2 separate regions of the Homo sapiens genome follow, and region 2 is linked to region 1. The links come from fine-mapping of genetic effects on gene expression. A gene starts in region 1. The other region holds a variant in brackets. All regions are shown on one strand. Distances are between the middles of the regions. Region 1 holds the start of TMCO1 (transmembrane and coiled-coil domains 1). Region 2 has its middle 17 kb from the start of ALDH9A1.

Evidence for each region. PIP is the estimated chance that this variant, and not a neighbour inherited with it, causes the effect.
Region 2: its variant is the best candidate, but not a certain one, in a credible set for the expression of TMCO1 in T cells (TOPMed, PIP 0.59).

What each region holds. Positions count from the first base shown.
Region 1 is chr1:165,766,297-165,771,675 of GRCh38, reverse strand. It overlaps TMCO1 (transmembrane and coiled-coil domains 1), which reads left to right and starts at 2,808. Exons shown (of 7, transcript NM_019026.6): 1 at 2,808-2,994; 2 at 3,407-3,484. The coding sequence starts at 2,925. TMCO1-AS1 (TMCO1 antisense RNA 1) reads right to left here and starts at 2,747. Exons shown (of 3, transcript NR_125374.1): 1 at 2,301-2,747. RefSeq lists enhancers at 1,845-2,520, 2,521-3,197.
Region 2 is chr1:165,712,742-165,718,120 of GRCh38, reverse strand. No RefSeq gene overlaps it. Among named protein-coding and RNA genes, the nearest start is that of ALDH9A1, 17 kb to the right of the region's middle. RefSeq lists an enhancer at 1-12 and a silencer at 2,903-3,103. The variant A/G (reference allele first, on the strand shown) is at 2,651.

The sequences.
Region 1 (5,379 bases):
CCCAGGACAAAAGTCTTCCTATTGTACTAGAGATTGGAGGAGGTCAGTGAGCTTTGGGAGAGCAGTCCTCATGGGGAAAGCTTTGAAATCTAAAAATTAGATAGTACAACTAAGAGCTTAGAGAATTTGGGAATATAACAAAGAAAACTAGTAGAATCTAGAAAAGATGTTATCTGAACTTGTCTCTAGCACTGTTCCTTTTTTTTTTTTTTTTTTTTTTTTGAGACCGAGTCTTGCTCTGTCGCCCAGGCTGGAGTGCAGTGGCGCCATCTCGGCTCACTGCAAACTCCGCCTCCCAGGTTCGCGCCATTCTCCTGCCTCAGCCTCCCGAGTAGCTGGGACTACAGGCGCCCACCACCACGACCAGCTAATTTTTTTGTATTTTTAGTAGAGACGGGGTTTCACCGTGTTAACCAGGATGGTCTCAATCTCCTGACCTCGTGATCCGCCCGCCTCAGCCTCCCAAAGTGCTGGGATTGCAGGCGTGAGCCACCGCGCCTGACTTCTAGCACTGTTCTTAAACAAGGGGCATAGTGTCATGACATCATTACCCTAGAAAAGGAAGTGTATCCTAGCAGTCCATGGTTGTAAACATTTACACAGGAATAACTTAACTGCTTATTAATATATTTCATATTTTCTCATTTTTTCATATTTTAACATCTCTGAATGGGATTCTTCTTACAATCAATGGTGTGTCATGGTTTAATTAGTTATTTTTTCCTCTTTAGTAGTAGATAAAATAATGATGCGTCTTACAATGAATAGCATGTTGAATTTGATGAATTGTGTGTGCCAAGCACTGCTTGAAATGCTTTATAATATACTTTTCCTCATCCAGTCTTCATAGCTGATGTTACCACCATTTTGAAGGCTCAAAGATGCTAAACAATAGGTTCTAGGACTGCTGTCAAGTAAGTGGCAGAGCAAGAATTTAAAATCAGGTCTGATTTCCAAGATCATGCTCTTATTGTTATCTCAGCACTTACCTTGGGTGATACAAAGGTGAATAAAAACCTATCCTTGTCTGAACTGCTCAAATAAAGGTCTAGCTCAAATATGATCTTTCTGAAACCTTTCCAACTCCCCAGGAAGAATACATCTTGTTTTCATCTGTACCCCCTCAACATTTTAAGAATACCTCTATAATACCTATAATCTTATTATATTATATAATCTCCCTGGGCCCTTAGAAGTCAGGAATATTCTCTTAACCATCCTTTTGACCCTACAGTGCCTACCACAGTTCTTGACATATAGTAGAAGCTCAATAATGTTTCTTAAAAAGGAGACAGGGTCTCTGTTGCTAAGTCTGGGAGACAAGAAATGCACATAAAGCTAAAAAAAAGTCAAAAGTAGTGTTTAGGAGAATTATATATTTAAGTGCAGTACAGTTTAAAAGAACCAATGAGGGCCGGCCACGGTGGCTCACGCCTGTATTCCCAGCACTTTGGGAGGCCGAAGTGGGTGGATCTGAGGTCAGGAGTTCAAGACCAGCCTGGCCAACATGGCAAAACCCCGTCTCTACTAAAAATACAAAAAATTAGCTGGGCGTGGGGACGGGCACCTGTAGTCCCAGCTACTTGGGAGGCTGAGGCAGGAGAATGGCTTGAACCCGGAGGCAGAGGTTGCAGTGAGCCGAGATTGTGCCATTGCACTCCACCTGGGCAACAAGAGTGAAACTCCATCTCAAACAAACAAAAAAACACCAATGATAGGAGGAAGTACAAGAGGATACAGCTCAGCCAGCTTCCAGGTTTTCACCCATACACACACACACCCCAGTGTGAAAAAGCTGAAACCGTCTACAATGGCTGAAACCACGCTGCTGAGACATTTTTGAATTTTAATTAGTTAGCAACACTTATAAATTAAGTTTCACATAAAACCCAGGATTTCTGGATTTTCCTGAGAAACGAAGACATCTCAGAAACTGGGTGCTCATTCTCCTAGAGAAATGGGTTGGATTTGGGTATCAAATTCTCCTTTCAGATGAACTTAATGCTCACTTATCCATCGTAGTAACTTCCACCATTTGTTTAGGCTCAGCTTGCATAAGATAATTTATTTTCTCTCGCCAGTCTAGGCATCTGGGTTTAAGACCCCTTCTCTAGATACATTACTCACTGCACTATCACACTATGAATTTTCAGGCATCCGTGCTTTGACTTCCACTTTGCCTAGAAAGTCCTTTGCTATCTCCAAAAGTACTCCTACTCCCCTAAGGCACTGCTTCAATTCCTTTCATTAGCTTCTTCTGACCACTCTCTCAACCGTGTCACGCAGCACTGTGGTAATACCTCTATTAAAACCCTTATCAGAGCGTATGCACAAGCTTCTCCTCTTCGCGCTGACGTTCGCTCCTTGAGGCCAGCGGCCCACAACTAACTCATTTCGCGGTTCCAGCTTCACGTCCATGCCCTGGCACCTACACCCAGTCGTTCAGTACCTTTGCGGAAGTCAGTCTTCTTACTTCACGGCAAACCCAAGCTAAACTAATATTACGACCACAGAAGTTGGGCTGAGGTAGAAGTCAAGACTATCCCAATAACTGGATTCTGGCCGAGAAAAAGGCGCGCGCCAGCACCCCAGTCAGTAAAATCTACCGGGCAAAGTTCGCCGCCGCCACTATCCTCCTCTGGCTCTGAAATAGTTCCAATTCTCGCGAGATTCGGCCTGACTACCAGCCCTTCAGCTCCAGTGAGTTGCGGGTTGGTTTCCTCTAGACTCTCGTGGCCACACCGTTCTCCGATACGAGCCTTTCCGGTGCTATGCCCCGGAAGCGGAAGTGCGATCTTCGGGCTGTCAGAGTTGGTCTGTTACTCGGTGGTGGCGGAGTCTACGGAAGCCGTTTTCGCTTCACTTTTCCTGGCTGTAGAGCGCTTTCCCCCTGGCGGGTGAGAGTGCAGAGACGAAGGTGCGAGATGAGCACTATGTTCGCGGACACTCTCCTCATCGTTTTTATCTCTGTGTGCACGGCTCTGCTCGCAGAGGGTGAGAGCGGGTATTTCTCAGACGTTTGATCAGTCCCCGGGAGGAAGGGCCCCGGGGTCCCCTGTGCCACCAGGGGAAAGATCGCGAGCCTTACTTGCTTGAGAGGCTCATCTACTCCACTTCAGGGAATCTCTGGGCAACTCGTGAACAGGAGCAGGAGGGGAGTATGGAGTCGATTGCCGAGTTTTCTTTGGTCTCAGGTAGATTTCACTTGGGTATTTGTGGAGACACCTTCACATCATGTTACTGTTGTTTTGGCTGAAGAGTCAGTTGTATTAGCCTTTGAAAAAAGTTAACTATGGGTAAATACAAAGCGAAAAGTTGGAATTCCTCCTTCTCCAACAGTAACCACTTTGTTTGTTGTGATCATTCCAGTCATTTCTCTATTAACATGTTGCTTTTAATGTTTTAGGCATAACCTGGGTCCTGGTTTACAGGACAGACAAGTACAAGAGACTGAAGGCAGAAGTGGAAAAACAGAGTAAAAAATGTGAGTATGGCAACACATTAGAAATAATTTCAACACGTCAAGCTCATTAAGTCCATGTTCACAATAAATATTTTAAGAGCACCAGCTGATACAAAGATGAACCTGACTTGAAGCCTATTTAGAAATAGAAGACTTTTATGCAAAATGTGTAATACCAACTAGAGGGAAGTGAGGGGCGTAGCAGATACATGTTATGTGCTGTGGTGGTTCTAAAGAAGAGGTTCAATCTGGCGCAGTGGCTTACTCCTGTTAATCCCAGCACTTTGGAAGGCTGAGGCAGGACTGAACTTAGGGGTTTGACACCAGCCTGGGCAACATAGGGAGACCTCGTCCCTACAGAAAAAATTAGCTGGGTATGGTGGTACACACCTATAGTCCCAGCTATTTGGGAGACTGAGGCATGAGGATCCCTTGAGCCCAGGAGATTGAGGCTACAGTGGGCCACGATGGTGTCACTACACTGCCTCCTGGGCAATAGTGAGACTTGTCTTTAAAAAAAAAAGAAGAAGAGGCTTCATTCAGTTGTGAGGAACCATGGTAGCCTTCATGATGCTGATGGCCTTGCAGTTCCTTGTGGATAGTTAGAATTTGGATAGAGAATGAAATGGGGAAAGGAAATTCCAGGTAAAGAAATAACATATGAGCAAAAATATGGAAATCTTAACATTTAAGGCATGTTTGGAGGATGATATGTCATTATGACTGGTGTCAAGGTAAGTGGTGTCTTCAGAGATAAGCCGAGTTTCAGTTGGGTTAGAAAGTTGAAGAGGTGTTTAAGGAAAAGATTAAAAACAAGAAGGGTTTGTTACCTTTGAAATAAAGCAGGAATTCCACAGGACTCAGCTAAAGGTACAGGGTGAATGGTTCCTTATAGGCCTGATTTAGTTTTCTCTCTTCTTTTTTTCCTTATAAGGATTAAATATAACTTTTGTTTCTTAGAATTCCTACAACTTTCTGTATTCTGTGACTTTTTCTTATATCTTCATAGGGGTTTGAAGTTTTTTTTCTTAAATTACCATATTTGATCTACACAGCAACCATTTGTGGTTACTCGTATAAATATTACCTCCATGTCATAGGAAAGAAAATTGAGCCTCAGGATGATAATGACAACTTACGTCACAGAGCAAACAAAGAATTAGAGACCAGACTCAGGCTTTTAAAATTACAGCTTACTGTTCCTTAATTTACTCAGTGTTGATTATGTACCTCAGCATATCTGGGCCAAACTCGTTATCTTTACCTTCACAAACGTGATATTCTTCCAGGATTTCCCTATCTTGGTGATGGGTACCTCCATGCTTCCAGTAGTGTAAGCCAGAAACCTTGATATGCTTTATTAATTTGGCTCCAGGACACCATACTTTCGGTTTTGCTGCTCTCCATCTTACTAGTCATCCTTTTTTTATTTTTTATTTATTTATTTATTTTTTGAGACAGGGTCTCACTCTGTCACCCCTCAGAGCTCATTGCAGCCTGGACCTCCCAGGCTTAAGCGATCCTCCTGCCTCAGACTTCTGAGTAGCTGGGACTACAGATGCACACCACCATGACTGGCTGATATTTTGGAGAGATGAGGTCTTGTTCTGTTGCCAGGGCTGATCTCAAACTCCTGGGCTCAAGCGATCCTCCCGGCTAGGCCTCCCAAAGTGCTGGGATTACAGGCATGAACCACAGTGCCCAGCCCTTACTGATCATTCTTCTGCAATTTACTTGATGGTTTCATTTCTTGACCTCCCGTTGTTGGGAGTGACACAAAATTTAGTTTTTTTCTCTACATTCACTTCCTTGGTGAACTTATCTTTTGGCTGTATTGGCCAGTGACTCCCAAATTTATGTCTGTGGCCCTCTCTTCTTAATACAAGATTCATATATCCACGCATCAATTTGTTATG
Region 2 (5,379 bases), 54 kb after region 1:
GCAACTCAACTCACTGCTTATATGTGCATGCCACCTAGTGACAAAAATTGGCCCTGCCTGCTTTTTAGGGAGATGAAGTGTTTTGTATCCACTGTTTAGGGGAAGGGAGACAGGTAGAGTAGATTACACACTGAGGAAACTTTAGAATGGGTCCCCTGGGCTAAGTGCGGTAGCTCACACCTATAATCCTAGAACTTTGGGAGGCTGAGGTGGGCAGATTGCTTGAGCCCAGGAGTTTGAGACCAGCCTGGGCAATATGGTGAAACCCCGTCTCTATAAAAAAATACAACAATTAGCCGGGTATGGTGGTAGGTGCCTATAGTTCCACCTACTCAGGAGGCTGAGGTGGGAGGATCACCTGAGCCCAGGGAGGTCGAGGCTGCAGTGAGCCAAGACCACGCCACTACACTCCAGCCTGGTAGACAGAATGAGAACCTGTCTCAAAAATAAATAAATAAGAATGGGTCCTCTAATGGGGCCAACGAGAGGCTCCCTGTGGTTGAACATGAAGACATAGACCTGGTAAATGCACAGCAAGTATTATTACATTTTTTTATTCCTGGACTCTCCTGCCACTCCTCAAGCTTCTCAATAAACTTCCATGTAAAAACAAAACAACAAAAAACAATAAAAGGCTTTGTTTCCCCCTCGACAAGGTGAGAAATCTTAAAAATAGGAGAGAAAGAGAGCAGGTAGATCTGGGAGGGTCTCTCTGGCATGCCTTTTGACCCCCTTGTCCCTCTTCTCCTGGGACCATTGTCTTTCTTATCGCATGTCTCCAGTCTGCCGAGGCCTTCCTCCATCCTGGCTCACCTTTGCTCTGTATTTAATTTTCAATGTGTCCTCTGCAGCCCCTGTTCTTTGCTGAGACTTTGCTAGATTCTCAATTTTATCATAGAATACTCCTACCACTTGAACTAAAAACCTAACTTTCTTATGAGGGAAATGTCAATGTAATTACACAAATATATCTGATAATCCATGATAATTCACAACCCTTTTGAGCAGACGCTGCTGTTTCTCTTCTCTTGTCTGAGGACCAAGAGGCAGGGTCGATGTGCTCCTAGCTACCCACTGCCTCATCCTCTTTTTCAAAAAGCCTTTTTTTGGCTGGGTGCGGTGGCTCATGCCTATAATCTCAGCACTTTGAGAAGCCAAGGCGGGTAGATCACCTGAGGTCAGGAGTTTGAGACTAGCCTGGCCAACATGGCGAAACCCTATCTCTACTAAAAATATAAAAATCAGCTGGGTGTGGTGGCGTGCGCCTGTAATCCCAGCTACTTGGGAGGCTGAGACAGGAGAATCGCTTGAACCCAGGAGGCGGAGGTTGCAGTGAGCTGAGATTGCACCACTGCACTCCAGCCTGAGCAACAGAGTGAGACTCTGTCACAAAAAAAAGAAAAAAGAAAAAAAAGGGCCTTTTTTCTTTTCAGGCTCACATGTTCAATCCACAAAGTTCTGTCTTTCTTATTAAAAATAACAATTGTAAAAAAGCAATATACACATTTGGTACAAATACAAATATCTGTGAAGGTATAAAATGAAAAGCAAAAATCTGTGCCTCTCTTCCCTATGCCGTCCTCATGCACCTTCCCTTACTTCAGATTCCAAAAGGTAACCATTGTCAATATTTGGTTATCTGTGATGGTCAACTTTGTGTCAACTTGGCTAGGCTATGGGACCTAGTTATTTGGTCAAACACCAGCCCAGATGTTGCTGTGCTGTTATTTTTTAGATGTGATAAACACTTAACAATCAGTAGACTTTGAGTAACACATATTACATTCCATAACATGTATAGGCCTCATCCAATCAACTGAAGGCCTCACAAGCAAAGACTGAGGTCTCCTAAAGAAGAAGAAATTCTCAAGGTTGCAATGTAGAAACCGTAACTTAGTTTCCAAATTGCTGCCCTGTGGAATTCAACTCAAGACTGCAACTTAACTCTTATCCTGAATCTCCAGCCTGCTAGCCTGCCCTACTAATTTCAGACTTGCCAGCCCCCACAGTCACATGAGCCAGATCCTTAAAATCTCTCTCCCTGTCTTTTTATCCTATTATTTCTTTTTCTCTGGAGAACTCTGACTGATACAGTGCTTGTATTAATGATGGAGATGGACCTCTGTCTCGCCAAATCCATTCTTCACTCTCATAGTTAGTTTCCCTTGCAGTTCATTGTGGTCATTCAACTAAGTTCTCTCCACTTGCATGGGAAAAGAAGTGATGTGAACCACTTCATGCCTTACCAGTGAAGACTTCTTGCTGTTTTCTTCTCTGGATGACTGGGAGGTTCATGCTGAGAGTGTCCTTGGAAACCATGTGTTGAAGATGGCATCCTGAGTCCTTCAGTTACCATGTGGAGCTGAGTCACCTCTTCTCCAACCCTGCTCCTACAGATTTTGAACATTTTACTTAGATGCCTCTGGACTGTTAGGTAAATTGCAAAAAAATTTATATTGGGTGTAAACTATTACATTTTGGATCTGTTTAATAAACTAGCTTAACATACCCTAATTTAGAAATCCAACACCTAAAACAGAGGGATTGGCTTAGTAGATGCACAGCAGGAGGTTAGGAACTGATATCACTGACTGAAAGACGGAGCCTCTTCCTATGCCATGGCAAAATATTTGGTAAAACTGTTGCTGTG[A/G]TAACTTGACAGGCAGACACAACTCTTATGGTACTGGTACTTCTAGGGAAGGTAGATGGAATGAGCCAGAATGTAACTGTGAGTTGGCTGCTGCTGGCTGTTTTTGGCTAGGTATGTTCAAAAAAGAGATGAGCTCAGACTAGAATCTACTGGTTTGCAAGTGAAAGAAGGGAATAGAGTCCAGAAGCTTGAGGACTTAAAGATTTCTAAAAGCCAACTGCTTCAATACCGTAATAGCCGAGACAAGACTTGTAGCTCAGAGGACTGTCATTGAGACATTTCAGTCAGACAAAGATCTTCTTTCAATCTTGCCCAATTGTTTCAGATAGTTTCAAGACAACTGACACTAAATTGAGAAAAGAGGGTTTGGGGTAGGGAAGAAAAGAGATAAAATAGGCTTAAGGACTCTGTCTAGAAAAGAATCCTGGCTGTGGCTATTGGCACATGGTACTGAATAGAAGAAGCAAACAGATTAAATGTCTTGTAAGCTTTTGTTTTTTTAAGATGTATTCTTGCTCTGTCACCCAAGCTGGAGTGCAGTGGGGCTATCTCAGCTCACTGCAACGTCCGCCTCCCAGGTTCAAGCCATTCTCCAGCCTCAGCCTCCCAAGTGACTGGGACTACGGGTGCCCGCCACCACACCCGGCTATTTTTTCGTATTTTTAGTAGAGACAGGGTTTTGCCATTTTGGCCAGGCTGGTCTCAAACTCCTGACCTCAGGTGATCCACCCACCTCAGCCTCCCAAAGTGCTGGGATTATAGGCGTGAGCCACCGCACCCAGCCTGTCTTGTAAGCTTTTTTTTTTTGAGACAGAATTTCACTCTGTTGCCCAGGCTGGAGTGCAGTGGCACAGTCTCAGCTCACTGCAATCTCCGCCTCCTGGGTTCAAGCAATTCTCCTGTCTCAGCCTCCCAAGTAGCTGGAATTACAGGCGCCTGCCATCAGGCTCGGCTACTTTTTGTATTTTTAGTGGAGACGGGGTTTCACTATATTGGCCAGGCTGGTCTCAAACTCCTGACCTTGTGATCCACCCACCTCGGCCTTCCAAAGTGCTGGGATTACAGGCGTGAGCCATGGCGCCCAGCCATCTTGTAAGCCTTTGAAGCATAACTATTGCTGGAGAAACCTCAGGAAGCCTGGCCTAAAAAGTTTTTGTTAAAATAAAGCAAGTCTTGTGCTCCCAAACTTGCAGAAATCAGGCTGCAAAAGTTGAATAATCCTTGAAGAAGGCATATTCCTCACCACCTCCTTTAGAATTTTTTATTTGCACAGCTTTTGGGTCTTTTGATTAGGATGTGTTCTTTTTTTTTTTTTTTTTTTTTTAGATGTAGTCTCACTCTGTCACCCAAGCTGGAGTGCAGTGGCACAGTTTTGGCTCACTGCAACCTCCGCCTCCCAGGTTCAAGCGATTCTCCTGTCTCAGGCTCCCGAGTAGTATCTGGGATTACAAGCACGTGCCACCACACTTGACTAATTTTTGTCTTTTTGGTAGAGATGGGGTTTCAACATGTTGGCCAGGCTGGTCTCGAACCCCTGACCTCTGGTGATCAGCCTGCCTTGGCTTCTCAAAGTGCTGGGATTACAGGCGTGAGCCACTGTGCCCGGCCCAGTGTCATTTCCTTAACATTTCTTTTGCTTGAAGTTCATTGAACTTCTTGGGCCAGTAAGCTTGTAGTTTCAATCAAATTTGGAAAATTTATTTTAAATTTTTTAATTTGTTTTTATTTTTAGAGACAGGAGTTCTCACTATGTTACCCAGGCTGGTAACAAACTCCTGGGTTCAAGCGATCTTCTTGCCTCGGCCTCACAAAGTGCTGGAATTATAGTCATCAGCCACAATGCCTGGCCGAATGTGGAAAAATTTTTGATCATTATTTCTTCCAGCATTTTTTCTTTCTACCTCCCAATTGCTGTATCTTTTGAGACTCTAATTACATACATGTTCAGTCACTAGATATTACCCCACAGCTCACTAATTCACTTTTTCTCAGTCTCTTTTTCTCTGTGTTTCATTCGTAGTTTCTAAAAAATGATTGCTGTGCCTTCAAATCCACTGATATTTTCTTCTGTAGTATCTACCTGTTCATGTCATTCAGTTTATTTTTAATTTCCAGTACTGAATTTTTCATCTCTAGACCCATCTCGATATGGGTCTTTTATATATCTTCCATTTTCCTATTCATCATGTTTATACTTTACTTTTTAAGCATAGGAAGTATATGTGTAATAACTGTTTTAACATCTTTGTCTAATAATTCCATCATCTGTGTGTTTTCTGGGTCTGTTTCTTTTGACTGGTTTTCCTCCTGATCATGAGTTATCTCTTCCTGCTTCTTTGCATGCCTGATAATTTTTTATTGGCTCCTGGACATTGTGGATTTTACTTTATTAGGTGATAGACTTTCTTGTATTACTTTGAATATTTCAAGAGTTTTATTCTGGGACAAGATAAGTTATTTGGAATTGGTTTGATTCTTCCGAGGCTTTTATTTATTTATTTATTTATTTATTTATTTATTTATTTATTTATTTATTTATTTTGAGACGGAGTTCCCCTCTGTCGCCCAGGCTGGAGCGCAGAGGCGTGAGAGGCTTCCTTTTAAGCTTTGTTATGGCAGGCCCAGAACAGCCACTAGCCTAGGGCTAATTTGAGCCCATTATTGAGGCAATAGCCTTCTGAGGACCCTACACAATGCCCTATAAGATCTTTCCACGCTGGCTGCTGGGA